Homo sapiens: one gene and its partners. The protein of the gene in region 1 purifies or fractionates together with the protein of each later gene. This does not show direct contact. Each region holds a gene or a part of one and is shown in the gene's direction. Other genes may lie near its edges. The genes, in order: CBLN4, NKIRAS1, DHFR2 and NRXN3.

Region 1 (7,285 bases):
AAATTCTAAAACCAATTGAGAAGTATTTTTTACAGCATCCATCTATTTTTTTCCCACAATACCATCCTCATATGAAACAAGTCTGTCATTTGGCTGTCTCCAGAAGGAGCTATGAAGATTTACTCAACATGACTCTGGAACTTTCCAGACTATGTAAGTTCTCACATATTGGTTGTTCATGGAGACTTTTTCTTCTTCTTCTTTTTTTCTAATATACTTTAAGTTTTAGGGTACATGTGCACAACGCGCAGGTTTGTTACATATGTATACATGTGCCATGTTGGTGTGCTGCACCCATTAACTCGTCATTTAACAGGTATATCTCCTAATGCTATCCCTCCAACCTCCCCCCACCCCACAACAGTCCCTGGTGTGTGATGTTCCCCTTCCTGTGTCCATGTGTTCTCATTGTTCAATTCCCAGCTATGAGTGAGAACATGCGGTGTTTGGTTTTCTGTCCTTGAGAGAGTTTGCTGAGAATGATGGTTTCCAGCTTCATCCATGTCCCTACAAAGGACATGAACTCATCCTTTTTTATGGCTGCATAGTATTCCATGGTGTATATGTGCCACATTTTCTTAATCCAGTCTATCATTGATGGACATTTGGGTTGGTTCCAAGTCTTTGCTATTGTGAATAGTGCTGCAATAAACATACATGTGCATGTGTCTTTATAGCAGCATGATTTATAATCCTTTGGGTATATACCCAGTAATGGGATGGCTGGGTCAAATGGTATTTCTAGTTCTAGATCCCTGAGGAATTGCCACACTGACTTCCACAATAGTTGAACTAGTTTACAGTCCCACCAAGACTTTTTCTTCTTAAGCTACTTACTCTCCCTCAAAAAAGATCATTAGCTTGGGCTGATAACTATCATTATAAAGAGCAAAGGGTAATTAAGCAACTCAGTGGAACTTTGTCTGGGTATGATGCAAGCCTCACTGCTCTCTCTCTCTCGATTTTCCATCTTCTGCACGACTGACCTGCGGCTGTCTCTGCTGCATGATGCATGGAGTCTGCTTTCATTCAACCACAGTGAGGCCCTTAGAGCTGAATACCTTGTGTGTGTCTGTCTTTGCCTTCTCAGAAACATTTTCTTCACAGTCAGAAAATAGCTCATAGATCCTTACTGTCTTGGGCTTGCTTGAAACTTGGTTTCTCTAAAGGATGGCTGGACAAGCAGTCATTGAATTTACTGACCTCAGAAGTATTGCTTTCCTATGCAAGGATAGTTTAGATTCTAATTTACTTTAAAGTTAAGCCCAGCTGCAGAGAACTGAAATGCATTTCTGCGTCATCTCTAAAGGTCTAGGAGAAAAAAAAAATCCTAGGCATCAAATACAATATGGGAATCTCAGAAAGGGAAAATATTTGGGTCACTGCTAGGTCTTCTAATAGCATATTTTCAACTGGAAAAATACAAGAAAAAGAAAAAGAAAAACAGATCTATGCTGTGGTTGGAGAGAAACTTAAACTTGATCTTGTTTCTTTTCTCCTGGGGATGCTGGGGCTGAAGTAGGGGGTGAGGAACAGGTGATGCCTCCTTTCCCAAAATGTTGGAAAAGCATTTCCTACAGGCAGGAGATTGGATTTGTTAGTCTTTTGGCAAGAGATCCATAGCCTTTTGTGGTATGGTTTCTGGGACAATGTTCTAATGAGGATTCTGGATGACAGGGAGCGGTATGTTACTAAAACTAGCTCAAGGGAATTGGGTTTTTATTTCAAAGACATAGGAGGATACCAAGAAACCCAAGGTTAGGAGAAAATGTTTCTGGAACTCTTGTAAGCAAGAGTTCAGAACTGGCGATTGACTATTCACTCCCTGTACTTCTTAGAAGTGCTCATGCTCCAGAATTGGCTTCTTTCTACAAGTGTGGCCAGTCCTCTGGTTTATTCCAATACCTCTTCTGCTTCAGCTTGCAGATGACTCCTACATGGCCACGTCAGTTTGGGAGACTACAAACCTTGTCTCTGCCACATGTAGTGCTTACTGGAAGCTATTTTGATGTCTCATTAAGATTGCAGAGAGAAAATCTGGCAGCCCCAAGTCATCTGGCCAAGTTGGACCATACAAATCTTGGACTTCTGGTATCAAATGCATTGATGGTCCTAGAACCCAGGGGCTATCCGTGTTTAATCAACTGTTGTGGGAAAAAGAGTCAGGACCCTCTGATTCACAATATAAGATAACTTCTCTTAGCGGGGGTCCACAGAAAATGCTGTGTTCCTTATCTTCAGAACACTTTGAAGAGCAGAACATCCTTTAGTAAGGAACCGAGACCCTTATCCCCAATTATTAAGGAGGCTTTGAATTTAAATTTTACTGAGAGAGACTCATTTAAAGCAGTTTATACTATAATATGAGTGATAATTACCTTCTATTAGGAAGCATTCAGTCATTTCTCAATTATTGAGTCTTTACTATGGTCACTATGCAGATTTTGGGACTAAAAATGAATATTTTTGGTGAGAGAAAGAATAGGTTTCTTCAAATCTCAGTTCTTGCGTGCAGGAAGTGCCTGGAGAAGAAAAGGAGGTAGAGAGAATATATTGGAATTGGTGAGGAAGATAGCTTATTTTCTATTTAACAATTCAACACAGTTTTTTTTTTTTTTTTTTTTTTTTTTTTGTCAAACTTCTCCCAGCCTGAAATTGAACAACCAAAGTTCTAGTTATTGAACAGCTGTCCCAGACAAGGAAGGCAGGGTGCTTACCCCTACAGGAAATAAAAGGAACTAAATTCAACTCAGCACCCACCCTCAAAAGACTGCATCAAATGAGAAGAAATTGCTGCTGTTAACCAGGCAGACATCCCTAAAATCTGGAAGAGAGTTACAAAGTGCAGAGAGGGATCAGGTGAAGATTGTGCTGGGCTTAGGGTGGGGCATCAAAGCTGGGTAAATGGTGGCCATCTTCAGAAGGCACTAGTTCACCTTGTTTGGTTGTAGCTTAGATAGGTAACTTTCAACATTTTAACAAATAGCATGGTACTAGCACCTGCCAGCCGGAACTGACACCGGCCTGTAGTCTCAGCTACTGGGGAGGCTGAGGTAGTAGAATCGCTTGAGCCCAGTAGTTTTGCATCTAGCCTGGGCAATATAGCGAGACCACCCCCCACCACAAGTAAAATAAAATCATAAAGTCAAAACACCTGATACTGGCCCCACTGGAGCAGAATCTGAAGGCCCCTGTGGCACCAAGTATTAACACTTTAGTTGAGAGATTATAGGGAGGTGAGGGTTAGGGGATTCCTCGTAGTGTCTTCAATTTTAACAGTTGGAGCTGGTGCTTATAGCTCAATGCCCGGCCCTTCTGAAGGAAGGGAAAAAGGCTGGAGACGAGGTTCACCTTGTTTTGTGGAGGGCTCGAATGCCACGCTCATGAGGGCGTCCTTCACTCAGGAAGGAATGGGAGCCGTCCATCCCAAGGACCTCCCTCAATAAACATCCCTTCCATTCATAACTAGCCAATGCCATTTTAGGAGCTCCGAATGCCTGGAGGGGATACTGTTTTGGTTAAAGATACCATACGTGTCTGCCCTCTGGCAGCTGGAAGTGTAGAAGAAATTGGGGAAGGGGCGCCATGACCCCACAGCATCACAGAATTGGAAAGCTGGCGGGATGGGGGTGGGGAGGACCTTAGTTAACGCCGCGCCCCCCTCTCAGAGAGGGTTAGTGACTCGGCCAAGTTCACGCAGCCGGGTCCAGACAGAGACAAACCTCCCTTCCCCGTGGTAGCTGCAGAAGAGGAAGGGAACTCTTGCAAATCAGAGGCCAAGATAGCAGTGGAGTGGCACGGGGGCGGAAAGCGCATCCAAAGGGGAGAAAAATGCTGTATTCCTAGGAGTGGGATTGTCTTTTATTTTTATTTTTATTTTTATTTTTTTATTGTTGTTGGCACGGTTTCGGAGGACTTATTCTTGCTGAGTTAACTCCCTCTCCCACTCTTTTTTTTGGCCATGCCTGGGGAGGATTCGCGGTGTGGGGGGAAGGCGCGCCCCTGCGGCTTCTGAGGCTCATCTTCCCGGAGCGGAAGGAAGGAATCAGGCACCTCCTCCCAGCCGCCCCCACGGGCTCTGGTCCGCCCCAAGGCTTCCCTGAGCTCGCCAGGCCCCAGGGCTGTGTGGGGCGGGCTCCCGGCCAGGCGCGGTCGGGACGCCCGCCGGTCCCCAGGTTCGGGGCAGCGCGCAGCGCGGGTCCGCGGCGGCTTATCCTTTTTCGCGACCCGGCCTGGCAGCGCCGCGCTCCGCTTGGAGGGCACTCGGCGGCAGAGTTCCGCGCTGGGAGGGGTGAGGGGACCAGCCGCCTCCTCTGCGGACTCAGATCGAGCAGGAGAGAGTGGGCGCGGAGCTGGGGCCAGCGCAGGGCCGTGGGCTCCTCTCTGGGCACGCATCCTTTACGCCACGGGCTTTCAGGGGCTGAGGGGCCTCGAACCTTGCCAATCACCAGTGCTGTGCGCCCCGCTTGCTTTGGGGTGCGTTAAACGTCAGGAGAGAGCTGCTCAGATGGGGTCACCAGACGCCTTCTCCCCCTTTTCTCGGAGCCCGCGGGTTGCGCGATAAGCCAACCCAGCCGGACGCTGCGCTCCTATAAATAGAGCGCGTGTGCCCGCTTCGCGCTCTCCGGGCTGCACGAGGGACGAGAAAGTTGTGCGCAGGGACTGGGGGCGGGCGGCCAGGCAGGAGAGGACCCCGCCGGACCAGCCGCCCTGAACGCTGCGCCCGGCGCCCTGGACCTGATCCTGCGAATCCGCGCTTTCGGTGCGAGGGACCTGGCTAGCCGCTGCCTCCCTCCCTACCTCTGGGTGACACCAGGTTTGGGGGATTTTTTTGACCAGGCGAAAGTGGGAGTCGCTGGCGTCCTGGCCATGAACACAGCCTCGCGTTCTTCTCAGCCTGGGAAGGACCTTCTGCCTCTGTAACTCGTCCCTGCCGCAAGCCAGACAGGACTGGCACCCGCGCCGCTGGGCACCCGCCACCCTTGTGGCTTCTCTTTGAGTCCCCTCTTTTTGTTCCTGCTCCGTGGTTTAGCTGGTGGTGCTTGAGTTTGGGGTGAGAATTTATTATTATTATTATTTTTTGCCTTGAGGTGTGAATGTGAGGGTTTGATGACTTTCAGATGTCTAGGAACCAGAGTGGGTGCAGGGGCCCCAGGCAGGGCTGATTCTTGGGCGGAGGAGAGTAGGGTAAAGGGTGCTGCATGAGCTCCTTAAAGGACAAAGGTAACAGAGCCAGCGAGAGAGCTCGAGGGGAGACTTTGACTTCAAGCCACAGAATTGGTGGAAGTGTGCGCGCCGCCGCCGCCGTCGCTCCTGCAGCGCTGTCGACCTAGCCGCTAGCATCTTCCCGAGCACCGGGATCCCGGGGTAGGAGGCGACGCGGGCGAGCACCAGCGCCAGCCGGCTGCGGCTGCCCACACGGCTCACCATGGGCTCCGGGCGCCGGGCGCTGTCCGCGGTGCCGGCCGTGCTGCTGGTCCTCACGCTGCCGGGGCTGCCCGTCTGGGCACAGAACGACACGGAGCCCATCGTGCTGGAGGGCAAGTGTCTGGTGGTGTGCGACTCGAACCCGGCCACGGACTCCAAGGGCTCCTCTTCCTCCCCGCTGGGGATATCGGTCCGGGCGGCCAACTCCAAGGTCGCCTTCTCGGCGGTGCGGAGCACCAACCACGAGCCATCCGAGATGAGCAACAAGACGCGCATCATTTACTTCGATCAGGTCAGACCCGGGGGGAAGCGAGCACCTAGGGGGTGGGCGGTCTCCAGGCACCTCAGCACGAGGCTGCCTGCCCAGGCTAAGCTGGTCCGATTGGGAAATGGGGAATCATGTAAAGCACTCGCCTTCCCAAATATGCCTGGGTCTGAAACTTCTACCGTCCCTCTTCCTACCCCTCTCACCAGCCCCGGCTCCCATTTCTTCCGGGCCCCTAAAAGAGGCTGCTGCGGCGGCGGGGGAGAGGCTTGGGAGCCCAGAGCCCGGCAGCGAGAGCTCAGGGCAAGTTTCGAGCAACAGGTCGGCGGGAGCCGAAGGGCACCTGGTCCCTGGACGTCGTTATCTCTTGGCCAGATCTTGGTGCCCTTGCTCAGACTCCTCTGCGGGTGCCGCTGAGGCTGCTCCCTGGGTACCTTTGCGGAACAGGATAAATGTTTGATTTGTTTCTCCCAGGTAGAGAAGCTTCTCTCCCAAGAGAGCCCCGGGCTTCCACACTCTTCAGAGATCGGGCAGGTGGCCGCGGAGGGCGGGGGCAGAGCCGGGGGTCAGATCTCGCCTGCAGGTTCCACTGTTCGTGTGCCAGGCACCGCTGGCACTGCCGCTGCCTCGGAGTAGGCAGCAAGCCCTTCTCCGGTACTTAGAGAAAAGTTGCGGAGGAGGGGAGGAAAAGGAATTTGGCAACTGCGCTGAGCTCCTGTAGGAAAGCGCTTGGGAGCCAGTTCTCCCTTCCCGGGCTCATGTCCTTTCAGAGAATTGCAAATAGCTGGGGAAAGACAGACTTTGAGGTTGATGAGAGTAGGGGAAGAGCTGACGGAAGCTGTAGCTGCTGTTTAGCGACCTGGTGCTCCGTGTTTGGCTTGATGAGAAACCCCAGGATATCAGCTTACCTTTAGCAAGGGGTCTTAAGGGAGAAAACTGTCCTCAGAGTTTTTAATTTCAGCCCCAACAGTATCCAGAGTCTTTTTAAATTCCAAATTCACAGTTCACAGTTGTATGCAAAGCTGCAATGTGCAGGGGGCACAGGTTAAGTGGTGTTGCAGGATGTGCCAGGGAAAGCACGAGGTGACATCTGTATTCCTTGCTTAATTTTTCCTAACTAATGCACTCTCCAGCTGGCCAAAGACAGAGAATGCCTCTCTAGGGGCTTAGTATTTGATAGACATAATTTTTAAAGAATTAAGTAGCTCCATTTGGGGTTTTGGTGCAGTATTTTCCATCTTGATGGAAATAAAGTCTAGCACCACCCCTAGTTTGTATTTCAATGCTTTAATTAAATGTTGGAATACTGTGGGCATTGCACTATCCTCTATACAGGGTGTTCCTTTCAATGACCTTTCCATCAATTAGAAGAGGAAAAGGGTTTGTTCTTCTTTTCAGTGAGCCTTGCATCTTAGAGACAAGAACACACATTTGGTTATAAATCTCGATGTACCTGGATGCTCCAATTACAGTGTAGAGTCAACATCCAGTTTTATATGTAGCCAACACTAATCAGCTATTTTCATTATTGCTAATGAATTATGCTACTTGTATCTGAATCAGGAAGTCACCACTAAGCACCTCAAATTATTT
Region 2 (7,257 bases), on another chromosome or scaffold:
AAAGTAAGCTAGAGATAAGAAAATGTTATTAAAATCATAAGGAAGAAGCCGGGTGTGGTGGCTCACGCCTGTAATCCCAGCACTTTGGGAGGCCGAGGCAGGCGGATCACTTGAAGTCAGGAGTTCAAGACCAGCATGGCCAACATGGCGAAACCCCATCTCTACTAAAAATATAAAAATTAGCTGGGCATGGTGGCACGTGCCTGTAATCTCAGCTATCTAGGAGGCTGAGTCATGAGAATCTCTTGAACCCGGGAGGCAGAGTTTATCGTGAGCCAAGATCACGCCACTGCACTCCAGCCTGGGCAACAGAGCGAGACTGTATCAAAACAAAACAAAACAAAACAAAAACCTGCTTTAAAAAATAAAGGTTATTTTAAAATGTATAAGAGGTTACCATTATTTAAATTTGAAAAGAAGAATGTAAGTGAAAAATAGCCACTGCAAAGGATATAAGACACTCTCTTTGATGATAATGCCTATAAAATAAAATCTGTGTCTCCCAGACTGGAGTATAGTGATGCCATCTCACCTCACTGCAGCCTCCACCTCCTGGGTTCAAGTGATTCTCCATCTCAAAAAAAAAAAAAAAATCATAAGGAAGAAAAAATATATTTACTATTTATTAACTGGAAGTGGTTCATCGTAAAGGTCTTCATCCTCATTGTTTTTATGTGGAGTAGACTGAGGAGAAGGAGGAGGGATTGGTCTTGCTGTGTCAGGTGGCAGAGGAGAAAGAAAATCTACATGTAAGACATGTGAAGTTCAAATCTGTGTTGTTTAAGGGTCAGTGGTATTCTCAGCAGAGCAGTATAGTATACTGTGATTCTTTTTTTTGTTTTGTTTTCATGGAAGCCAACATGTATTTGTCATTTCTTTAGTTTTGTTTATACCTTTTGCTAGTTCTTTCCACATAGTCCAGATGTTTCTCAGTTCTGCATGAGGTCAGCTCCATCAGATAATCTATTTTTTTTCTTGGCTGTGTCCTTTCAGGAGCTCTGTGTCCTCTTATCTACTGTGCCACCATCATCATGGAACTTCCCCTTTGTTTCTCCCTTTGGTTTTTTTTTTTTTTTTTTTTGAGACGGAGTCTCGCTCTGTCACCCAGGGTGGAGTGCAGTGGCACGATCTCGGCTCACTGCAACCTCCACCTCCTAGGTTCAAGTGATTCTCCTGCCTCAGCCTCCCAAGTAGCTGGGATTACGGTCATGCGCCATCATGCCTGGCTAATTTTTGTGTTTTTAGTAGAGACAGGGTTTCACCATGTTGCTCCAGCTGGTCTTGAACTCCTGGCCTCAAGCAATCTGCCTGCCTCAGCCTCCCAAAATGTTGGGATTATAGGCATGAGCCACTGCACCCGGCCTCTCCCTGGTTTTGATTTCCTGTTTCCTAGATCTCTTGTCTTCTTTTCTTCTTTTGGCTTATACCTTTTTTTTTTTTTTTTGGAGCACATTTTCCAGTACTTTTCTGGGGTTGAAAAGGTTGTACAGTAGAACAGAACATCCAGTGATGATGGCCTTCAACATGCCCTCTACCTGGGACGTAGTCGTGACCCTGGGGCTTCCGAATTGAGATATTTACTAATTGTGCTTGTGATTTCCTTTACTTCATATCTGTGTTAGGTTCTGTTTCTTCCTGTTTCTATGATTACATATTAGTTTTTATGGAGGGTCTCCTCAAATAGTTTTCTGAGAAAATATACGTGATACATTTTCTGAGGCTTTGCATGTTTGAAACTGTCTTTATTTTACACTAACATTTGAATTGTAATTTTGATGGGTATGGAACTCTAGGTCAAAAATAATATACTTTCGGAATTTTGAAAGCATTGCATATATGGTTTAATAATTATAAGACAAACCTTCACATAATCTCCACATGGATCAAAAAGTACAACATTGAGGACAGGCCAGTGGCTCCCTGTGTTCCTCTGTCCAGTTGCAACTCATTCCTTCCCTTGACTTTTGGTTAATCATTCTTTTTATTTTTAATTGCCACATATGTGTGTCACTAAATGGTCTAGTTTATTTTTTGCCCTATGGATTTTCTATGAATTAAATTAATCCATGTCTGGCTTCTTTTACTCAACATTATATTTGTAAGACACATCAGGCCAGGCATGGTGGCTCACCACTGGAATCCCAGCACTTTGGGAGGCCGAGGTGGGAAGATCACTTGAGCCCCAGAGTTTGAGATCAGCCTGGGCAACATCAGGAGACCCCATCTCTATTTAGAAAAAAAAATAAAAGATTCATCCATTTTGCCGTAGCTGTGGTTGTTTACTTTTCATTGATGTAACATTCTATTGCATGAAACTACCTCTGTCTGTTAGGTCTTCATGAACATTTGGGTTATTTTCCAGTTTGGAGCTATTGGAAATAATGCTACTCTGGAACATTATTGTACATGTATCCTGGCTATTATGTGATAAATTCTGGTATACATATCTAGAAATTGCTGATTCATAGAAGGTGTGTCTCTTTAACTTTATCAGCTTCTATTGTCTTCTTGCTTCTAGTGCTACTTTTGAGAATCTGGGAACCATTATGATTCTTGATGCTTTGTCTGTGGAAACTTTTTTAGGCTCTCTTCTTTGTTCTTAGTTGCTGTGGTTTGAAGGATAGTGTCTCCTCCAAAATTCATGTTGAAACTTAATCTCCAATGTAACAGTATTAAGCACTGTGGCCTATAAGAGGTGATTAAATCATGAGGGCTCCACCCTTCACCTTCATGAGGACTAATCCCTCATGAAAGATTAGCATCCTTATAAAAGGGCTTGAGGTTGAAGGGAGTGCTCTCTTGCCCTTCTGTCTCTCCCACCATGTGAGGACACAGCATTTGACCCCTCCCAAGGATGCAGCAACAAGGCTCCATCTTGCAGTAGGGACTGTGCCATAACAACACACCAGACCTACTGGCACCTTGATCTTGGACTTCCCAGCCTCCAGAACTGTGAGAAAGAAATTTTCTATTTATAAATTACCCAGTCTGTGGTATTTTGTTATAGAAGCACAAATGGACTAAGACACCAGTGTTCTGAAATTTCAGTGATGCGTCATAGAATTGATCTTTTCTTTTCTTTCTTTTTCTTTTTTTACTCGGGTTGGAGTGCAGTGGCACGATCTCAGCTCACTGCAGCCTCCGCATCCTGAGTTCAGGCAATTCTCCCACTTCAGCCTCCCAAGTAGCTGCAATTACAGGTGCGCACCACCGTGCCCAGCTAATTTTTGTATTTTTAGTAGAGATGGGGTTTCACCATGTTGGCTAGGCTGGTCTTGAACTCCTGACCTCAGGTGATCCGCCCACCTTGGCCTCCCAAAGTGCTGGTATTACAGGTGTGAGCCCCCGAGCCTGGCCAGTCTGTTTTCATTTACTGTATTGGACACTTAGAGGGCCCCTTCTATATGGAAATGCATGTTCTTCAGTTTTGAATTATTTTGTTATTGCTTTCTTTCCTCTGTGTTCTCTGTCCTTGTTTTCTGGAACTCTCTTTTTGGATGCTGGACCTTCTGGACTAGTCCTTGAATTTTCTTATTGCCCCTTTCCTGTTTATCATCTCTCAATATTTTTGTACCACTTTTTGGTAGATATTCTTATCTTTATTTTCCAGCCCTTCTATTGAGTTTTTGTTAGTATCCTGTTCTTATTTCATGGATGTACTATCTTATTTTTTTGATAGATTAGGTAGTTTTTTGTTTGTTTGTTTTTGTTTTCTTTTCTTTGTATAGTTGGTTTCTCTGTAGCGGTCTCTTCTTGTTGGTCTCTATTTTCTTCAGGTGTCTGCTAAACCTTGGTTATCTGTTCATAATTAAAAATGGACCCCTAGGCCCAGTGCAGTGGCTCATGCCTGTAATCCTAGCACTTTGGGAGGCAGAAGCAGGCAGATTGCTTGAGCTCAGGAGTTCAAGACCAGCCTGGGCAACATGGTGAAACCCCATCTATACAAAAAAATACAAGAATTAGTGGGGCTTGGTGGTATGTACCTGTAGTCCCAGCTACTTGAAGGGCTGAGGTGGGAGGATCGCTTGAGCCCAGGAGGTTGAGGCTGCAATGAGCTGAGATTGTCCCACTGAACTTCAGCCCAGATGACAAAGTGAGACCCTGTCTCAAAAATAAATAAATACAACTTAAAAAGCCAATTGGAAGCTCTAAGCATATGGATAGGGTTCATGACTTAGAGCTTCACTAAAGTGATCTGGCAGGGGCATTTATTGGGGAAACCTAGATGTCAGTATATTTAGGATTTTTTCCTTTTCCGTTGGCCAGATTCTCCAGATTCCCCTGGATGGGGATAAAGAGCTGGCTGCCAGTGTTTTGGGAGCAGAAAGGGAAAGCCGGAGGACTTCAACATTCAGTATGTGTGTGTGCGCAGGCATGTCACTTAATTGCCCTGTTTTCATGGTGGAACTCATTCCCTTTATCCCACAGTCTAGACAGCCTCTATTTTATACTCCCCAGAGATTGCACCCTTAAGCCTTCCCCTGGTGTGCGAGATGGGTAGTTGCCCAGCAGCGTGGAGTGGGAGAGGAAATCTAGAGAACTAGTGGAAGACTCTTGACTTCATTTGATCTTTAGAGTACCAAAATATCAAAAGGTCTAAACTTTAGACCCCCTTTTGGAGAGGCAGGTGGAGGTGGGCTAACCGGACTGGCTTTTGGTGGATAAAAAAATCACATGACAAAATGCTTGGTAGTTTTTGCTTTTAAATTAATTTGTAATCAAAGCCCAATACGTTTGTGTCTTAATAGATAACCTTTAATTTCCTTAGGGCTTAATTTATGACAGGATGACACAGACAGGTATATACATAATCAGATTTATGAATAATTTTACCTTTCTAAACACTGAATACATTCCTTATGAGTTATGTTGATGAAAGTAAATTTTTGGTTTCTCAATGATCCAATCTATGTATTACCATGTGATTATTCCTTTTAATCTAATACTTGTGGAGATTTTATGTAATCTAATACTTAACGGACATTTCATGTAAGGCATCTGGAACAAATCATTCTACAGTATTTAGGTTGTTTAGGAAAACTGTAACTAGTTTAAAAAAAACTATAACATAGTATGATTGGGGGGGGTATAGGATGTTATCCATGTGATTTTACCTCTGGATGTATCTCACATTCATTTATTTTTATTTTTTTATTATTATTTTTTGAGACGGAGTCTTGCTCTGTCATCCAAGCTGGAGTGCAGTGGCATGATCTCGGCTCACTGCAACCTCTGCCTCCCAGGTTCAAGCAATTCTCCCTGCCTCAACCTCCTGAGTAGCTGGGATAACAGGTGCCCGCCACCACACCCAGCGAATTTTTGTATTTTTAGTTGAGATGGGGTTTGGCCATGTTGGCCAGGCTGTTCTTGAACTCCTGACCTCAGGTGATCTGCCCACCTAGGCCTCCCAAAGTGCTGGGATTATAGGCGTGAGCCACCGTGCCTGGCCTCATATTTAAATATGGAGGTGGTTACTGGGACTATACCTTACCTGTCTTATCACATGTCTCTCCACTACTTATTAAAATTAAGAATGTTAATCTTCTCCCTTTAATTCCTTTATCAGTAAGGGCTTATTGAATATTTGCTGTGTACACAGAATGGTTCCTTTCACTTAATAAACTTAGAGACTAGTTGAAGAGATAAAACTTGCACAAATGAAACAAAGTGGTAAAATGCATTTTTAAAAGATCATAAACAAGAAGGGGATTTTTATTTTTATGCAGAAGAAATATTTTTTAAAAGAATTTTGTTTACGCCAGGTGCAGTGCCTCACACCCGTAATCCCAGCACTTTAGAGGCCAAAGTGGGTAGATTGCTTGAGCCCAGGAGTTCGAGACCAGCCTGGGCCACGTGGTGAAACCCTGTCTCTACAAAAAGTACAAGAATTCACTGGGCATGATGGCACCTGTAGTCCCAGCTGGGAGGGACTACTTGGGAGGCTGAGGTGGGAGGATCCCTTGAGCCCAGGTGGCGGAGGTTGTAGTGAGCTGAGATCGAGCCACTGCACTTCAGCCTGGGCAACAGAACAGGACCCTGTTTCAAAAAAAAAAAAAAAAAGTAAAATAGAAATGTGATTATTATATGTGGTAAATAAGAAACCTAGAAAGCCAATTTCTAAAGGACAAGAAAATACGGAGCAGTTGACACTGACTTAGCCAAAAAGAGTAATTTGTTTTCTTAATCCCAGGAATGGAAGATTGCGAAACAATGGAAGATGTATACATGGCTTCAGTAGAAACAGACCGAGGAGTAAAAGAACAGTTACATCTTTATGACACCAGAGGTCTACAGGAAGGCGTGGAGCTGCCAAAGCATTATTTTTCATTTGCTGATGGCTTCGTTCTTGTGTACAGTGTGAATAACCTTGAATCCTTTCAAAGAGTGGAGCTTCTGAAGAAAGAAATCGATAAGTTCAAAGACAAAAAAGAGGCAAGTGGATATGTTAAAAATGCCAAATGTGAATTATAATACCATTTAAATTATAGCACAGACTTTTGGGTAGTTTATTTTCAGATCATTACAGTATATTCTTAGTATCTGTAAAACCTTTACAATTTTTTTCTTTTCTTTTTCTTTTTCTTTTTTTTTTTTTTTTGAGACGGAGTCTCGCTCTGTCTCCCAGGCAAGAGTTGAAAGTGCAATGATGCGATCTTGGCTCACTGCAACCTCCGCCTCCCGGGTACAAGCGATTCTCCTGCCTCAGCCTCCCAAGTAGCTGGGAATACAGGAGTGTGCCACTATGCCCGGCTAATTTTTATATTTTTAGTGGAGACAGGGTATTACCGCGTTGGCCAGGCTGGTCTTGAACTCCTAACCTCAAGTGCTTTGCCGGCCTTGGCCTCCCAAAGTGCTGGGATTACACGTGTGAGCCGCTCTGCCTGGCCTAGAATTTTTTTCTTAACCCAAGAAATACAGGTCTGACTGAATTTAGTTAGGACCAGAATTTGACTTTCTGCCTTTTGCTTGTTACCATCTACAAGTTGAATTTTAATGACTTCTTATCTCAAGTACTACATAATTCATTTTATGTTCTTTGGTATTGCTGTTTCCTTGGGTTTTTGTTTTTGTTTTTTTTGAGACTGAGTCTCTCTCTTTCACCCAGGCTGGAGTGCAGTGGCACGATCTTGGCTCACTGCAACCTCCAACTCCCAGGTTCAAGGGATTCTGCTGCCTCAGCCTCCTGAGTAGCTGGGACTACAGGCGTGTGCTACCAGGCCCAGTAATTTTTTGTATTTTTAGTAGAAACAGGGTTTC
Region 3 (7,730 bases), on another chromosome or scaffold:
AGTGGTTGCTAAAATAAGCAAACAGGTAAGTACTAAACATGGCTGTTGCAATATGCCAGATAAGAGATTGGGAAGGTCTAAGTGAATGGCAGCAGTAGAGAATTTTTTTAAAAAGATCCAAATTAAAAGGGGGCAGGGTAGTTGAGTCTCAAAGACAACTCTCACTTCTGACACCAATTACAAGTTCAGGGATTCCAAGGATGACTCTCAGGTTTGATTATTCACTGGGACACAACCGAACTCACTGAAAGCTGTTATAATCACAGTTATAGTCACAGTTTATTATAATGAAAGCATACAGATTAAAAACAATCACAGGAAGAGACTCATAGTGCAGAATTCACAACAATTCAAAGCATGAAGCTTCCAGCTGTCCTCTCCAACGGAATCATCAACGAGGTCAACTTTTGCTGGCAGTAATGTATGACAGTATGCACAAGAGTATTGCCAACCAGGGACACTCACCAAAGCCTTGGTATCCACTTTTTATTGGGGCTTGGTCACGTATATATGATTGACTGTCCATACAGCTTTTAGTCACAAGCCCTTCTGGATGTTGAGTTGACACCTGTGGTCCCCAGGCCTCAACATAAATCACATCGTTAGATTATCAGGTGTGACCTCAACACCCAGGTAAACAAAGACACACTTATCAGGAAGCACATTCCAAGGGCTTAGAGATCGCCTCCCAGGAGCTGAGGGCAGTTGCCAGACCTATTTTTATATAAGGTTCATTTTTTACTACAAAGGTAGTGAAGGTATAGAGAAGAAAGGAGGAAACCAGACTGATGGTGATACACTTAATTGAGATAAAATATGCAGGTAGCAAAGGCAACATAAGTTTGAAAGGGAAAAATAATAATACACTTTTGAGTTTGCCAAGTAACTGAAGTTGCTAAAAAACAGAAGTATGGGACTAAATCTTAGGAAGAACCTCACAGCTTGAGATGACAGCATACTGATAAAAGTCATGCCATGAATGGGCTTACCTGAGGAGAACATGGAGGCAACAAATAGAGCAAGAATTGAACCAGGGTAAACTCCAATTTTAAAGGGCTGCTCAGAGGATGACTAGACAAGAAAGGTTACTAAAAAAGAGCAAAACTAAATACTAAATCTTCCTCACTACTACAGGAAACTAAAAATATTGAATAAATTACTTTCTAAATAGGCCAAAAAAAGAGCACTTGACTTTCCCTGGAAGTAGACTCTACAAGTACATTATGTCTTGCAAACAAGCAGTTAAAACACAAAATATTTCATTCTGTTCTTATTTCCCCATACCATCTTCCATGCTCAGACTACTTCCTAAGCTGAGAAACCTTTATTTTGCCTATGGCAAATTTAGTGTGTGTTTATGCAAAACTTAAATTACCACAAAAACCCCACAATAGGGTAAATGAAGCAGAAGGCACAGCTAATTAAATGGATTTGAGGTTCATTGCTCATTTTGCTCAGGGTCAAATAATAGTATATGACTTTCTGAGTACACTAAGTAGAAAAATAAGTCATTATAGGATATGAGTAGCCAGACTGCTACAAAGTCTACAGAAAAAAAAAAAGCCTCTTGAAATCTTTTTTTTTTTTAAATCACATCCCAGATATGAGACAGTACAGAACAAGGATGAGCTGTGGGAGTTATTGAGTCAGACAACCCAGGCACAAGCCTCAGCTCTGCCACTTATTAGCTGAGTGAACTTGGGCAAATTACTTAAACTCTTAACGGGTTTGTTCTGAGGATCATGTAAGTCAGTATTGTCTGGCATATAGTAAACATGCAATAAGTGTTTGGTTATTTGGATACTCTATTTGAGTACCTTTGTATACTGAAAACCTCATAAATTTATTACATACTTTATTATTCAGTTCTTCATCTCTGTGACAGAAAATACCCATTTGAAAATCTACTTTTGAAATAAAACCCACGAGTATAAACGGTTTGCATATTACAGCATTTACCAATTTCTATAACAGCTTAATTGTCCTAAAATTATCTCAGAATCACCTCAGACTTTGTGATCTTTATTAGCCAAAACTTAATTTGTTTTAGAAAATGCTCAGAACTGCCCTTTGTAAAGGAGAAATGCTTAAGAGTTGATCCAAGAAAAAAATGGACAAGCCAACCATCTGAAAAATTAGTCTGGACCAAGTTCCAGATAATATCTGTAGCCATGCAACTTTTTTTCCTCATGCAACATGTAGTGGGCTTTTGCCCTAACTTCATGAACAGTGCACCTTCTTCCCTCAACCTAGGAGGCCTAGTTCTTTTTGTCAAAGTAACTCCTCTAAGTCACCAAGACCCAGCTTCCCTTCAGGCCTTTGCTGGCACCCTCAGGCTTTGTTAGATACTTGGATCACAGTATTTACAAATTAGTTTATATAGTTGTAACCACACCCATCTCCTCACTTCTCCCATTAACACTAACTAGACGGCATGTAAACTGGACATGCAGACTGTCTTGCTCTGTATTCCAGAGAGGGTTATATAGTGTATCAGGCACTCAATGTCAAGAACCCATACAGTAATCCATACATTAACATCATCTTACCAAACAGACAAATCACATTTCTCCCACTTCCATGCATTAAACATTCCTTATTTTTATATTTAAATAATTTTGTGTGTATATGCACGTGTTCAAAATATACCCAGCCATCGACATAGGAAAGAAATATGATTACCAAATAAAGTGTACCTTTGGCTGAGATAAAGCAGTGCTGGCTTTAAAGATTTGTTGTATTATCTTCTAAATTTCAGAAATCAGTCAAATATTCCAAATTTTATGTTTTTTTCTTTTACAGTATAATTAATTTTGTCAAACTAGTGGGCATTCCTATTTCAAGGATCAAAGTAATTGCTCAAAGCAAAGGCGTAACAATTTGTGCTTACCATCCCGACAAAGTTTTATTTCCCCTTTCCAACATGCTATGATTCATTCTATTTCTTCTTAGTTGTTCCTTTCTATAGCTTCAGTAGGAAAAGGCAACCAGATTTAGATTCCTTTGCCTTTTAACCTCACAGCATCCCTCCCACAAAAAGGAGGACTACATATTGTACTTTGTTCCATCATAAAGCATCGAGATGAATTATACTAACCTTACTGTATTCCAGGCATCTCCGAGTTCTTTGGAATACTGTTTTTCAAAATGATCCAACACAACTTTGCAAATCTGTTTTGCAAGCTTCCCCTCTGATTTTGCTTTCAGCTATGACGATAAGAAAAAGTTGCTGACACACAGTGATATTACAAATTTACTGAACGTCAACATTAGCAAGGTCTTTTTTTAAGACAAGAACACTTTTTTTGGATAATTACTAGTTCTTGAAATGGAAGCAATACCTTACATGTACCAAAACTGTACATTATCTAATTATGAAAAAGCAAGGTTTTTCCAAATAATTATTTTCCAAATGTGAAGCAAAGGTTAAAACAGAATCTACTGGGGCTGAAGAAACTGTCAAAAGGAACAAAATTAATTTTAAAAAGTCACTGTAGGGGCTAGGCAGGTGGCTCACACCTGTAATCCCAGCACTGTGGGAGGCAGAGGCGGGAGGATCACATGAGGTCTGGAGTTCAAGACCAGGTTGGCCAACACGGGAAACCCGTCTCTACTAAAAATACAAAAATTAGCCGAGAGTAGTGGTGGGCGCCTGTAACCCCACCTACTCAGGGGGCTGAGGTGGGAGAATCGCTTGAACTCAGGAGGTGGAGGTTGCAGTGAGCCGAGATCGCGCCACTGTACTCCAGCTGGCTCATGCTTTGCAGGGACGAGGCGAGAGGATCATTTCCCAGTTCAAGACCAGACTGGAAAACATATCAAGGACGTGTCTCTACAAAAAGTAAAAAAAAAAAAAAAATTAGCCAGGCGTAGTGGCCTGCTCCTGTAGTCCTAGCTACTAGGGAGGCTGAGGCTGGAGGATCGCTTGAACCCAGGAGTTCAAGGTTACAGTGAGCTATGATGGAGCAGCTGCATTCCAGATTGGGTGACAGAGCAAGAACTTGTATCTAAACAAAACTAAAAAGTCACCGGGGATGCTGACATCAAGAAAAATTGGTGAAAGGTATTTGAGAACTCTGTACTATCTTTGCAACGTTATTTTAAAGTGAAAAGTTAATTTAGGGAGAAAAGTCACTCCAATTTCATCGTGAACTTCCTTGCAATTGTTTCATTTATTCATCCAAGAAACGTGTATTCAATGCCTACTATGTAACAGACACTGTTCTAAGCTCCCGGGATACCGCTGTGACACAGAAAACAAATCTCAGCCCTCCAAGAGCTGGAGGGAGTGGGTACTAGAAGTCTGCGAGCTGGACGGAAGGGACTCAGCATTACAGCACTCAGCATTATTTCAGGGCTTGACAGTAAAGCCAAAGAAACGCTGATCTCGCGAGGGGACGAACAAAGGTGATGTTCCCCCATCCCAGCACCCTCCCTCGCCACCTCGGCCGCGTCCAGAAGCGTCTCATTCAGATAGAGGTACCCAGCCGGGCCCCAGGTCTCACCTGGGTCAGCATTGTCCCGCTGAGAGCTTTCAAACAACAGGTGTACGCGAATCAGTATCAAAAAGCCTCCAGGGAACTGAAAAAAACAGTCTGACTTCCGGGATTCGCGGGCATCCACTTTCATTCTCACGTTTCCTCTTCAATTTCTCGCGAGATACTGATTTGCTCGCGCTATAGAATTCTTGTCGAAGAGGCTTAGCTCCCGCGGGAGATTTCGTGCGCAGTTACTTCCGGTAGCTGGTAAAGGCTGATACTTCCCAGGACGCGGAGGTAACGGGCCAGGGCCAAAGCGACTTTCGCTACTTGGATTGGTCGGCGTAGCTTTGGGCGGCCGGACCTTAGAAAGTCACACATCTGCGCGCCTGTGCGGCCCCTGCTTCTGCGGATGCTGAGGTGGGAGGATCGCTTGGGCAGAAGTTTGAGGTTGCAGTGACCCGTGATCGCGCCACTGCACTGCAGCGTGGGCGACAGAGCGAGGCTTTGTCTCAAAAATAAATAAAAAGTCGCATATTGTGCTGAACAGTGTGTATATGCATGGGGCTCAATAAAGGAATGAGTTTTGGGGTTATGTTGTATGATGACTGATTTAAAATATTCTCAAAGCGAAGCTAGTTACTGACTTAATCTACCAAATCTAGTGACCCCTGTTAACCTAGACATTCAGTACCCAAGGATAAAAGGGTGGAATATAATGAAAAAGAAATTAAGTCATGCTTTTCCCCAGACCTGGCCCATGGGGATAATCTCTCCTTTTAATGGAGAGTGTTAAACTGAAGTAGGCATGTAAAGCGGTTACAACAGTGATTAGGAAACAGTAAATGCCCAAATGTTAGCTGCTATTATTTTCACTATTGTGATCATTGTGATTTTTGTCGCGTTGATACCAAATGCGTGAAGACCAAAAGGACCCTCCACTCTAGCCTCCCCAATTCACCTTTACAAGGGAGCAATGTTTAATGGTTCTCCAAGGAAGATGTTTATTACACCTATTTTGACACGAATAGAAGTTTATTTGCTCTTTTGGTGTCATGCTTCAGTAACTATCATTTGTAGCAGCAATCAGCAATTAGAAAAAACCGGTTTGATATGGTCCCTGATAGTTAATAATCATCATTTTGAGTTGTTCCTTGATGCTCATATCAATATACGTACATGCTATAGGTACAAGTCTTATATTCATGTAAAAACATGTCTTTCCTTCTAATCTGATTTGAAGCTTAATATATTTATTTATTTAAACAAGTTTCCAAGTCACCTAAAAAATGCATCTTATTAGAATTTAGATTTGGTACAAAAGACTATGATAATCAGGAATGAAATGATGCCATCTCTTGGATGCCGTCTGTTTAATGTTTGTGGAAAAGTCGGTCTAACCTTTCAGCCTCTGTATTTTTTATAATTTTATAAATTTATATTTTATAAATATTTTATAAATTTATACTTTATAAATATATTTTATATAATTTATTTTTCTATGTTCATTCCAGAATGTTGCAATTAATTAATACAGTGGTATTGTATTTGCAATGTAGGCACGTAAAAAAATTTGAAGAAGGGAATTTCGCGGCATTCTTGGCCTGGCTTCCTGGCGTAGCCAGCAAGTTCGGAGGTGTTAACCGCTGCTGTCATGTTTCTTTTGCTAAACTGCATCGTCGCTGTGTCCCAAAACATGGGCATCGGCAAGAACGGGGACCTGCCCAGGCCGCCGCTCAGGAATGAATTCAGGTATTTCCAGAGAATGACCACAACTTCTTCAGTAGAGGGTAAACAGAATCTGGTGATTATGGGTAGGAAGACCTGGTTCTCCATTCCTGAGAAGAATCGACCTTTAAAGGATAGAATTAATTTAGTTCTCAGCAGAGAACTCAAGGAACCTCCACAAGGAGCTCATTTTCTTGCCAGAAGTTTGGATGATGCCTTAAAACTTACTGAACGACCAGAATTAGCAAATAAAGTAGACATGATTTGGATAGTTGGTGGCAGTTCTGTTTATAAGGAAGCCATGAATCACCTAGGCCATCTTAAACTATTTGTGACAAGGATCATGCAGGACTTTGAAAGTGACACGTTTTTTTCAGAAATTGACTTGGAGAAATATAAACTTCTGCCTGAATACCCAGGTGTTCTCTCTGATGTCCAGGAGGGGAAACACATCAAGTACAAATTTGAAGTATGTGAGAAGGATGATTAATATGAAGGTGTTTTCTGGTTTAAGTTGTTCCCCCTCCCTCTGAGAAAAGTATGCATTTTTACATTAGAAAAGGGACTTTTGTTGACTTCAGATCTATGGATAATTATTTCTAAGCAACGTGTTTTTATTCCTCACTAATCTTGGCTATATCAGATACCATTTATGAAACATTCTTGCTATAACTGTCTCTCCAAGACCCCGACTGAGTCCCCAGCACCTGCTACAGTGAGCTGCCATTCCACACCCATCACATGTGGCACTCTTGCCACTCCTTGACATTGTCAGGCTTTTCTAATGTTGGTAGTATTTATTAAAGATGAAGATGCACATACCCTTCAGCTGAGCAGTTTCACTAGTAGGAAATACCAAAAGCTTCGTACATGTATATCCAGAGGTTTGTAGACAAATGTTGCAGCCTTTTTTGTAACAGTGAAAAACTGAAAACAACCTGGAAGTCCAGTGATGGGAAAATGAATATATTTCTGTCTTAGATTGGGGAACCCAAAGCAGATTCCAAGACTGAAATTTAAGTGAAAGCAGTTTATTTGCTAGGTCATACCAGAAGTCATCAATCGAAGTATGGAGAAATGGAACTGAGAAGGTAAAAACCAGTTCAAAATCAGTGAGGAGGTTCTCAATGGTAACGAGCTCCATACTGCTGAGATACAGGGAAACGGAGGGGAGAAAGCTAGAGTATTTAACCCCCACTCCTTGGTTGTCAGCTCCCTGTCCTGTGTGTGGGCAGAACGTACTCCACCTACTCAATAGCAAGTTCCAGGTGTTTGCTGAAAGAAGCTGCTGTAATGTACGGGAACGGTGAATGCCAAACACTTAAAGCAATTCCATGTTTAAGTATGTAAACTCTTCATACTTTTTTTTTTTTTTCTTTTTAAGACAGAATTTCACTCTTGTTGCCCAGGCGGAGTGCAATGGAACAACCTTGGCTCACGGCAACTTCAGCCTTCCCAGGTTCAAGCAATTCTCCTGCCTCAGGCTCCTGGGTGGCTGGGACTACAGGCGCGTGCCACCACGCC
Region 4 (7,257 bases), on another chromosome or scaffold:
AAATATTGCAATGAGGATGGAAGGCAAATATCATTTTAATTAGTAATAACACACAATAATATTGCTTACACCCACTGAACTTCAGAATTAGACAGAACTGCCCACTTGAATAGTAGTTCAGAACTGGGCAGACATCCTTTGTGGAAGCAAGGCTTGCTCCTGTAACACCCATTCTATGGATGCATGCAGTAGAATGGACATTTCTGAAGGCAGCTTGCTCCAGCAAAGAGAAACAGGAGGTGTTAGGGGCTGAGCTAAGCATACACAGCTTCTCTTTGCAGATCATCCTTAATATTTCTGATTATGTCACTTCTTCAGGAAAGTTGTTAAAGAGGAAATAAAGAGATGCTATCAGTCTTGCTAATGGAGTTTTTTCAATGTAGAAGGTAACAAGAGAGGACAGGAAGAAAGAATTCCCCCTCTAATGCTTGGCAGTAGAACATGGTTTGTTATGTTTTAACATGATTTTTCTATATAAATGTTGAGGAAGCCAATTTCTACTCTGGCCACATTAATGATGTTTTTCTTTATTTTGTTATTAAAATTTCCAGTCTCTTTGTATTTTTTTTTCAAGCCCTCCTTATCCCCTCTGCCCTAGTCACTCACCACTTCTAGGTAAAATAGGTAATACAAGTTCTAAATAGTTCATTTGTAACAGCTGAAGATATTTCCGTTGTGAATGTCAGAAACCCAACTCAAACGCTTTAAGCATGAAAGGGAGTCTATTGCCACACAGTTTGAAAAAGCCGGGAGGTGCCTGGCTTGATCCAGAGTCTCAAAGGACAGCACAGATGATTCTCTTCATTTGGTAATTGTCTTCTGGGTTGCTAGTCCTCTGATCCCTCTGATTTTCTTATAGCCTCTAGGGACTCAAAGCTTTCTTCTTACCCCTCCAGCAGTCCTTGCTTGCAAAGAATCCTCTTTCCTAAGTGTACCAGCAAGAGCTCTGGAACTGAGTGTGGCCGGGATGGCTTGGGTTGTTGCCAGTTCTAAGGGTGGTCCCTAAATCAGCCACAAGAGCATCACTGTGAAACTTGTTAGAAATGCAGATTCTCAGGCCTCACCCCAGACTTTTGAATTCTAAACTCTGAGGGCCTAAGCCCCCCAGGTGATTCTGATACACCCTAAAGTGTAATGACCGCTTTTTAAGTCTGTAGTCCAAAGTCTGTGACAGTTAGGGGGGTAAAGTACATTGAGTGGTCTAGGCTGAGTAGCTTGATTAGGGTCAACTTTATCCAGTCCAGGTGGTTGAAAGGTCAAGAGGGGTGGGTAGCTTCCTAAAGAAAAATTACGTGTTATTATAAGATAAAGTAACAGTTGCTGGGCAGGTAAACTCAACTGATAAGTCTATAATAGAATCCTTCCCACGAGTACTAAGTGGAGAGTTATTACGAGAAAAAATACTTGGTAGTGATGCCCAAGACTTGTGTGTTGTGTCTTTACAAGGGTCAGAGCAACAAAGGCCTTTCTTCTTATAGTGTGTATTAGTGTCCAGTGATTCTCCTGAATGGAGAATATCAATAGTTTTATCCTTTAGCCTGGGTTACTCATGACCTCATATTTCCCCTTATATGATGAGCCGTGCTGAGCAGCTGCGTGACAGCATGTAATTTGGGCAATGCCTGATTGAGGCCAAGTAAGGTATCTACCATATTGAATATTTGGTTTTCTTGAACTCACCCAAGAAAGCTGAATATTCTGTGTGGAAACAGGTTACACCCAAAAAATATACTTGAGGGTGCTGTGATAAATGATGGTAACTTTTCTGTTTGTACCTCATTTACAATTTTCACAGGTACAATGGTGGGAGACCATACCCGTTTGGAGTTCCACAACATTGAAACGGGAATCATGACTGAGAAACGCTACATCTCCGTTGTCCCCTCCAGCTTTATTGGCCATCTGCAGAGCCTCATGTTTAATGGCCTTCTCTACATTGACTTGTGCAAAAATGGTGACATTGATTATTGTGAGCTGAAGGCTCGTTTTGGACTGAGGAACATCATCGCTGACCCTGTCACCTTTAAGACCAAGAGCAGCTACCTGAGCCTTGCCACTCTTCAGGCTTACACCTCCATGCACCTCTTCTTCCAGTTCAAGACCACCTCACCAGATGGCTTCATTCTCTTCAATAGTGGTGATGGCAATGACTTCATTGCAGTCGAGCTTGTCAAGGGGTAAGTAGAAGGGATCACGACTTATGTTGGACACCTTTAATCTACTGAAGCTCTACGTAAAATATGGACATAAAAATAACTTGTCTATTCTACTCCCTACCCTCCATTCCTGACACATTCTCGCATCTTCCTTGATTAAATGGATCCATAAAATTATTAGGTCTGGAAAGGAGAGAGGCTCATGATTTAATTTAAAGGTCTTCCACTAACTCAACACTAACAGACTTTTTCCTATGAAATGTAGCCCTTTAAAACTATTGAAGAAAAGCTTATTTTTGCAAAAGAGGGCTATGATTTGTATTGCATCTAATTCTTGAGTATTACTAACTACAACCACCCAATTTATACCAAAAGATGAAACATAAATATTTTAAATCCTACCATTAGCCCATATATGCAAGTTTTTAGAAGCTGCCCTTTCCTCAAGACATTTTACTACCATGTATTAGAAAATAGTCAAAACAAAAAACCAAAACAAAAACCAAAACAGATTAATGGTTGATGATGAATTTAAAAGTCACCCCCTTATGTTTTGTAGTGTACAACCTGTGCTACTTTGACTCTGGAGAGTATTAGTAGGTAGTGTTAATGAAGTGGACTCGATGAGTATGGAATTATAGTGAAGCATGATAGAATAAAATCTGACTATTCTTGTAACCTCATATCAAGATTTAAATTATTCCTGCATTATGCCAGTTTAGCATGGGGGATTTGAAGCCCACTATGTCAGTTACACACATATAGCCATTAAACCACTTCGGGGATTTTCCAATTATTGTTTTTTTTTTTTTTTCTTCCTAGGTATATACACTACGTTTTTGACCTCGGAAACGGTCCCAATGTGATCAAAGGCAACAGTGACCGCCCCCTGAATGACAACCAGTGGCACAATGTCGTCATCACTCGGGACAATAGTAACACTCATAGCCTGAAAGTGGACACCAAAGTGGTCACTCAGGTTATCAATGGTGCCAAAAATCTGGATTTGAAAGGTAAACCTTGTAAAGAAATTTAGTTTTTAATAGAGCTTTTCTTACAATAGATAGACTATTTCCAGAGGCAAACCACAGGTTCAGAGTGCCATGCATTTTTGATACATCATCCATATCCTGTTTTAACAATGTTGAATTATCCTGTAATGCAATTTTTTCCGTTTTTACTTAGACTACTCATCAAGAAATGGTTCATTTTCTCTGATAACCTCGGGAATGTCATGCTGTGGGGGCTGAGAGATGACAGGATGAGTGTCAAAGTGTGGGAAGGGCCGTAATACAGAGGAAGGAATATAGGCTTTGGAATTTCAGCTGAATCATTTAATGTCTGGTGTCATCAGTAAACTGTCTTAGCCTTGTTCAGCTTACATTTACTTTTCTTTGCAAAATGAGGATAATAATTGTTAGTTTCTGTATAGGTCGTGAGAAGTTTTGATGGCATGTCTGTATATCCCTCAGCATATTATTGGTAACAAGCACATAAAAAGCACTCAATAAATGCTTGCTTTGTTGACAATATTGTTAATCTTTACTCCATCTATGATGAATAAATTTTTGAGATGGTATATATAAAATGAATGACACATAATAAATATTGGTTTCCTTTTTTTGCAGGGTAGAAACTCAGGTGCTTATCTCATTTATGCTGTCCCCCCCCCCCCCCCCCAGCTATCTTATTCCTTATCTGATGAATTATCTCAAGTGTATCAAACTAGTTGACATGGTCACCACATCCTTTACTCATTCTCTTTTGCTAATTACTTTCCTTTCCAGGTGATCTCTATATGGCTGGTCTGGCCCAAGGCATGTACAGCAACCTCCCAAAGCTCGTGGCCTCTCGAGATGGCTTTCAGGGCTGTCTAGCATCAGTGGACTTGAATGGACGCCTGCCAGACCTCATCAATGATGCTCTTCATCGGAGCGGACAGATCGAGCGTGGCTGTGAAGGTACAACCTATTTTTTTCTTGTTAAGCTACAGCCTTGTTGCAAGCACCAAGCCTCTTTGCTGCCTCTGCCACTGCCTCCTTCCTCAGTTGACCAGTCCTGTCTCATTCTCATTTGCCACGTGACATTGCATCACCATCAGTGTTCTCTTGTCACTGGTTTAGTATGTCAAGACATGTGCCACAGGCTCCAGGAATGTATGTTGGCAGATGTTTTCTGAGTATCACATACTTGCCAATAAAAATAAAATAAAATAAAAAACTTCCCTGGCATTGACATCAGGCTTCTTTCAATGTGTACCTTGGCTTCCAGAATGGCTGAAACAGCACTGGAGACTTTTATTTATACTTTAATACATGATGAGGGGAAAACCAGAGATTTTATGTAGATGTCACTAATTAATAAAATGTTTCTTATTTTGGCTGATAGTGACTGCATTATTTAATGCAAATCTAGCAGGCAATAGGAAAACGATGTCCAAATGCCATGATGATGGAAGGGAACTAACATTTACTAAGTACTTACTAATTATCAGGCATTGCTAGGCAGTTCTTTAGTGTGGTATATTGGAACATTATGGGCTTTGATATTAGAAATACCTGGATTCAGCTCCAGGTAGTAGCTCTTGTTAGCTATGTGACATTTGGAAGGTGATGTAACTTCTGTAAGCTATATCTTTCTTACCTATAAAACAGGGCAATAAAACTTACCTTGAATGTAAGGAGATCAGAAATACACATAAAATGCCTGGTATGTAGTAGGTACTCGATAAATGGTAGGCTTATTGTTTACAAATATTATTTTATGTCAAACATCTAATAATACTGCATGTCTACCCATGCAGCACAACAAACCATGCTCAGCCTGTTCCTGTAGATGATCCACTGTCTCTTGAGATACTAAATGAATTTTACAGGTCTTCCTGAATCCAACAATTCTTTGCAGTGTAAACAATCTAGTTTTAACCAGCAGATGGCAGAAGTGAACACATTCAGCCTTCCCTAGTAGTCTTGGGTTGGCTGAAAACGTGACTGTTACCTAACTTGAAAGGCAAAGAAGTTGCCTGACCAAGGATCTATGTAATTATTTCCTTTTTTTCTTTTTGAGCCTTTTGGTTGAGCCTTATGGTCCTGTGTTTGCGCAATATATTGTGTTTCCTTGTATCAGTTGTTAATTTACCACATCAAATCTGTTCATTCCACTTCTGTGTTCAACTTCATGTATCGCTTCTGTTCTTAAACAGCTTCCATCTGGGTTAGCTCATCATCGTAAAGCACACATTTATAAAAGCTTCCTGTCAGCTTATCAGGCTGACTTGGAGTTATGGAAATTGTTTCCCTTTGCCTAAGAGTTATTTTTGTATTTTGCACTAGTAATAGGAATGTTCATTCCTATAACCCACTCCATTTTTCCTTTATCCAGAAATATTTCTTAAATTGTCTTGGCCAAATATGGTGTTTGTACTATGTAGTGTGTGTGTGTGTGTGTGTGTGTGTGTGTGTGTGTGTGTGTATAAAGGGACAGGAGGTTGGGAATCACTAAGCCCTTAAAGCAGCCACTTTGCTCCTAGAAATGAACAATTTCATTCAATCAGGGATTTTTGTCTCCTTGGCTTGCTTTTAGTTCTTTTGTGTATTAAAGGGCAATCCTGGAATAGACGTAGCATTTGGAATTAAATTGTATATAGTGTTTAGAAGATTGTAGAATGGCAGTAATTCCATTTATCCTGGAATAATTAATCATATGAAGTCAAATCACAATATAAGAGCACATATTAGAAAGCGTAAGATACTGGTCAAATGTTACAGAATTTTTATTATGCCATCAGTTCTTCAGATTTAAAAGTTAACAGGAATCATCCATTAACTCTATGTCAGTGTTTTCCAATAGATATATGTAACACATGCAATTATAAATTTCCTAGTAGCTACATTTTAAAAAGGTATAAAGTAACAGGTCAAATTTATTTTAATTTTGTATTTTATTCAATTTAACTAAATATACCCAAAATATTATTTCAGAATGTAATAGAGATAAAATTATCAATATTTTGCACTTTTTTTCACATTAAGCCTCTAAACTTGAGTTTGTATTTTATACTTGCAGCACACCTCAACCCAGGGGCTACATGCATTTAAAGTGCTCAATACACATGTCAATGGCTACTGTATTGGTAGTACAGGTATACAGAATACAAAAATTAAGGTGTAAATAAATAAAGCTATAGTATTGGATTAAAAGGAGGTCTAAGCTTTATAAAAGGGTACTAAAATGTATAATATAAAGGGAGAATGACCTCACTTAAGAGAGTTTTAAGAGAAGCAGTAAGAGCATCAGCAAAAAGAAATTACATAACGAGTTGGGGAAAATGTCCCTATCCCTATCTACAGCTCTATGTGCAGTTTGGCATTACTCATCACATGCATTACAGAGAGCTCCGACCTTCCTCTGAGTATGGTTGATTGTTCAAAGCCGGATATTGTGGCTTGATGGCTCCACCATCTGAATCTATGGTGAGTCCCATGAGCCTAATAGCACTGCACTCTATTGCCATGGAGATAATTACAACGGTTACCCACTGAGCATTATGCCTACCCCGCTGGGTGGGATGAAGTGGAGGGTGAGTGCTGAGGGAAGAAAGTCCTTGTTGATTGTACACAAATGACTTGGATAATTAGCCTAAGTGGCCAGGAAAAATGGCCCAAAATGGGTTAAGGCATAAATTACTGTCATTGGAAGTTTGTACCACTGTGAATAAGCCCTTGCAAGAGATCCCAGGAGCATTTTAGGGTTCTGTGTAAGATGGTGGGGAGGTAAAGGGAGAGCACAAAACACTGGAGACACTGCAAAAAGGCATCATTTTTATTCTGAATCTCTTGTGTAGAGCATGAGACCCCCAAGAAGGCCTTTGAGCATTAGGTAGTATGAGGACCACAGGAAACAGAACAAATTTCTTAATTTATCATTTCTTTTACATAGAACAGTAAACAAGTAGGGGATGAGGTTTTATAACTAAGAACTAAGACCAGAATCTCTTCAAGATATGTTTTATTCTAGCAAATCTAGAATACACAGATAAACATATATATATATATATACACACACACACACAGATAGATAAGTATCTGTATCTATCTACATT

What was found.
Region 2: the proteins of CBLN4 (region 1) and NKIRAS1 purify together in Homo sapiens (affinity purification with mass spectrometry; 2 studies listed by BioGRID and IntAct, with this or other methods). This does not show direct contact.
Region 3: the proteins of CBLN4 (region 1) and DHFR2 purify together in Homo sapiens (affinity purification with mass spectrometry; 2 studies listed by BioGRID and IntAct, with this or other methods). This does not show direct contact.
Region 4: the proteins of CBLN4 (region 1) and NRXN3 purify together in Homo sapiens (affinity purification with mass spectrometry; 2 studies listed by BioGRID and IntAct, with this or other methods). This does not show direct contact.

The regions. Positions count from the first base shown.
Region 1 is NC_000020.11:56,002,315-56,009,599, reverse strand, and holds the start of CBLN4 (cerebellin-4 precursor), read left to right. Parts: upstream 1-4,080; 5' UTR 4,081-5,428; coding exon 5,429-5,719; intron 5,720-7,285. UniProt on the Homo sapiens protein: Acts as a synaptic organizer in specific subsets of neurons in the brain. Essential for the formation and maintenance of inhibitory GABAergic synapses.
Region 2 is NC_000003.12:23,899,983-23,907,239, reverse strand, and holds part of NKIRAS1 (NF-kappa-B inhibitor-interacting Ras-like protein 1), read left to right. Parts: intron 1-5,762; exon of another isoform or gene 5,763-5,879; intron 5,880-6,166; exon of another isoform or gene 6,167-6,190; coding exon 6,191-6,432; intron 6,433-7,257. UniProt on the Homo sapiens protein: Atypical Ras-like protein that acts as a potent regulator of NF-kappa-B activity by preventing the degradation of NF-kappa-B inhibitor beta (NFKBIB) by most signals, explaining why NFKBIB is more resistant to degradation.
Region 3 is NC_000003.12:94,059,914-94,067,643, reverse strand, and holds the start of DHFR2 (dihydrofolate reductase 2, mitochondrial), read left to right. Parts: upstream 1-4,727; 5' UTR 4,728-4,898; intron 4,899-6,037; 5' UTR 6,038-6,132; coding exon 6,133-6,696; 3' UTR 6,697-7,730. Other genes in the region: NSUN3 (tRNA (cytosine(34)-C(5))-methyltransferase, mitochondrial), read right to left, coding at 3,098-3,207, 4,506-4,517. UniProt on the Homo sapiens protein: Key enzyme in folate metabolism. Contributes to the de novo mitochondrial thymidylate biosynthesis pathway. Required to prevent uracil accumulation in mtDNA. Binds its own mRNA and that of DHFR.
Region 4 is NC_000014.9:78,964,230-78,971,486, forward strand, and holds part of NRXN3 (neurexin 3), read left to right. Parts: intron 1-1,795; coding exon 1,796-2,177; intron 2,178-2,978; coding exon 2,979-3,169; intron 3,170-3,943; coding exon 3,944-4,117; intron 4,118-7,257. UniProt on the Homo sapiens protein: Neuronal cell surface protein that may be involved in cell recognition and cell adhesion. May mediate intracellular signaling. Functions as part of a trans-synaptic complex by binding to cerebellins and postsynaptic GRID1.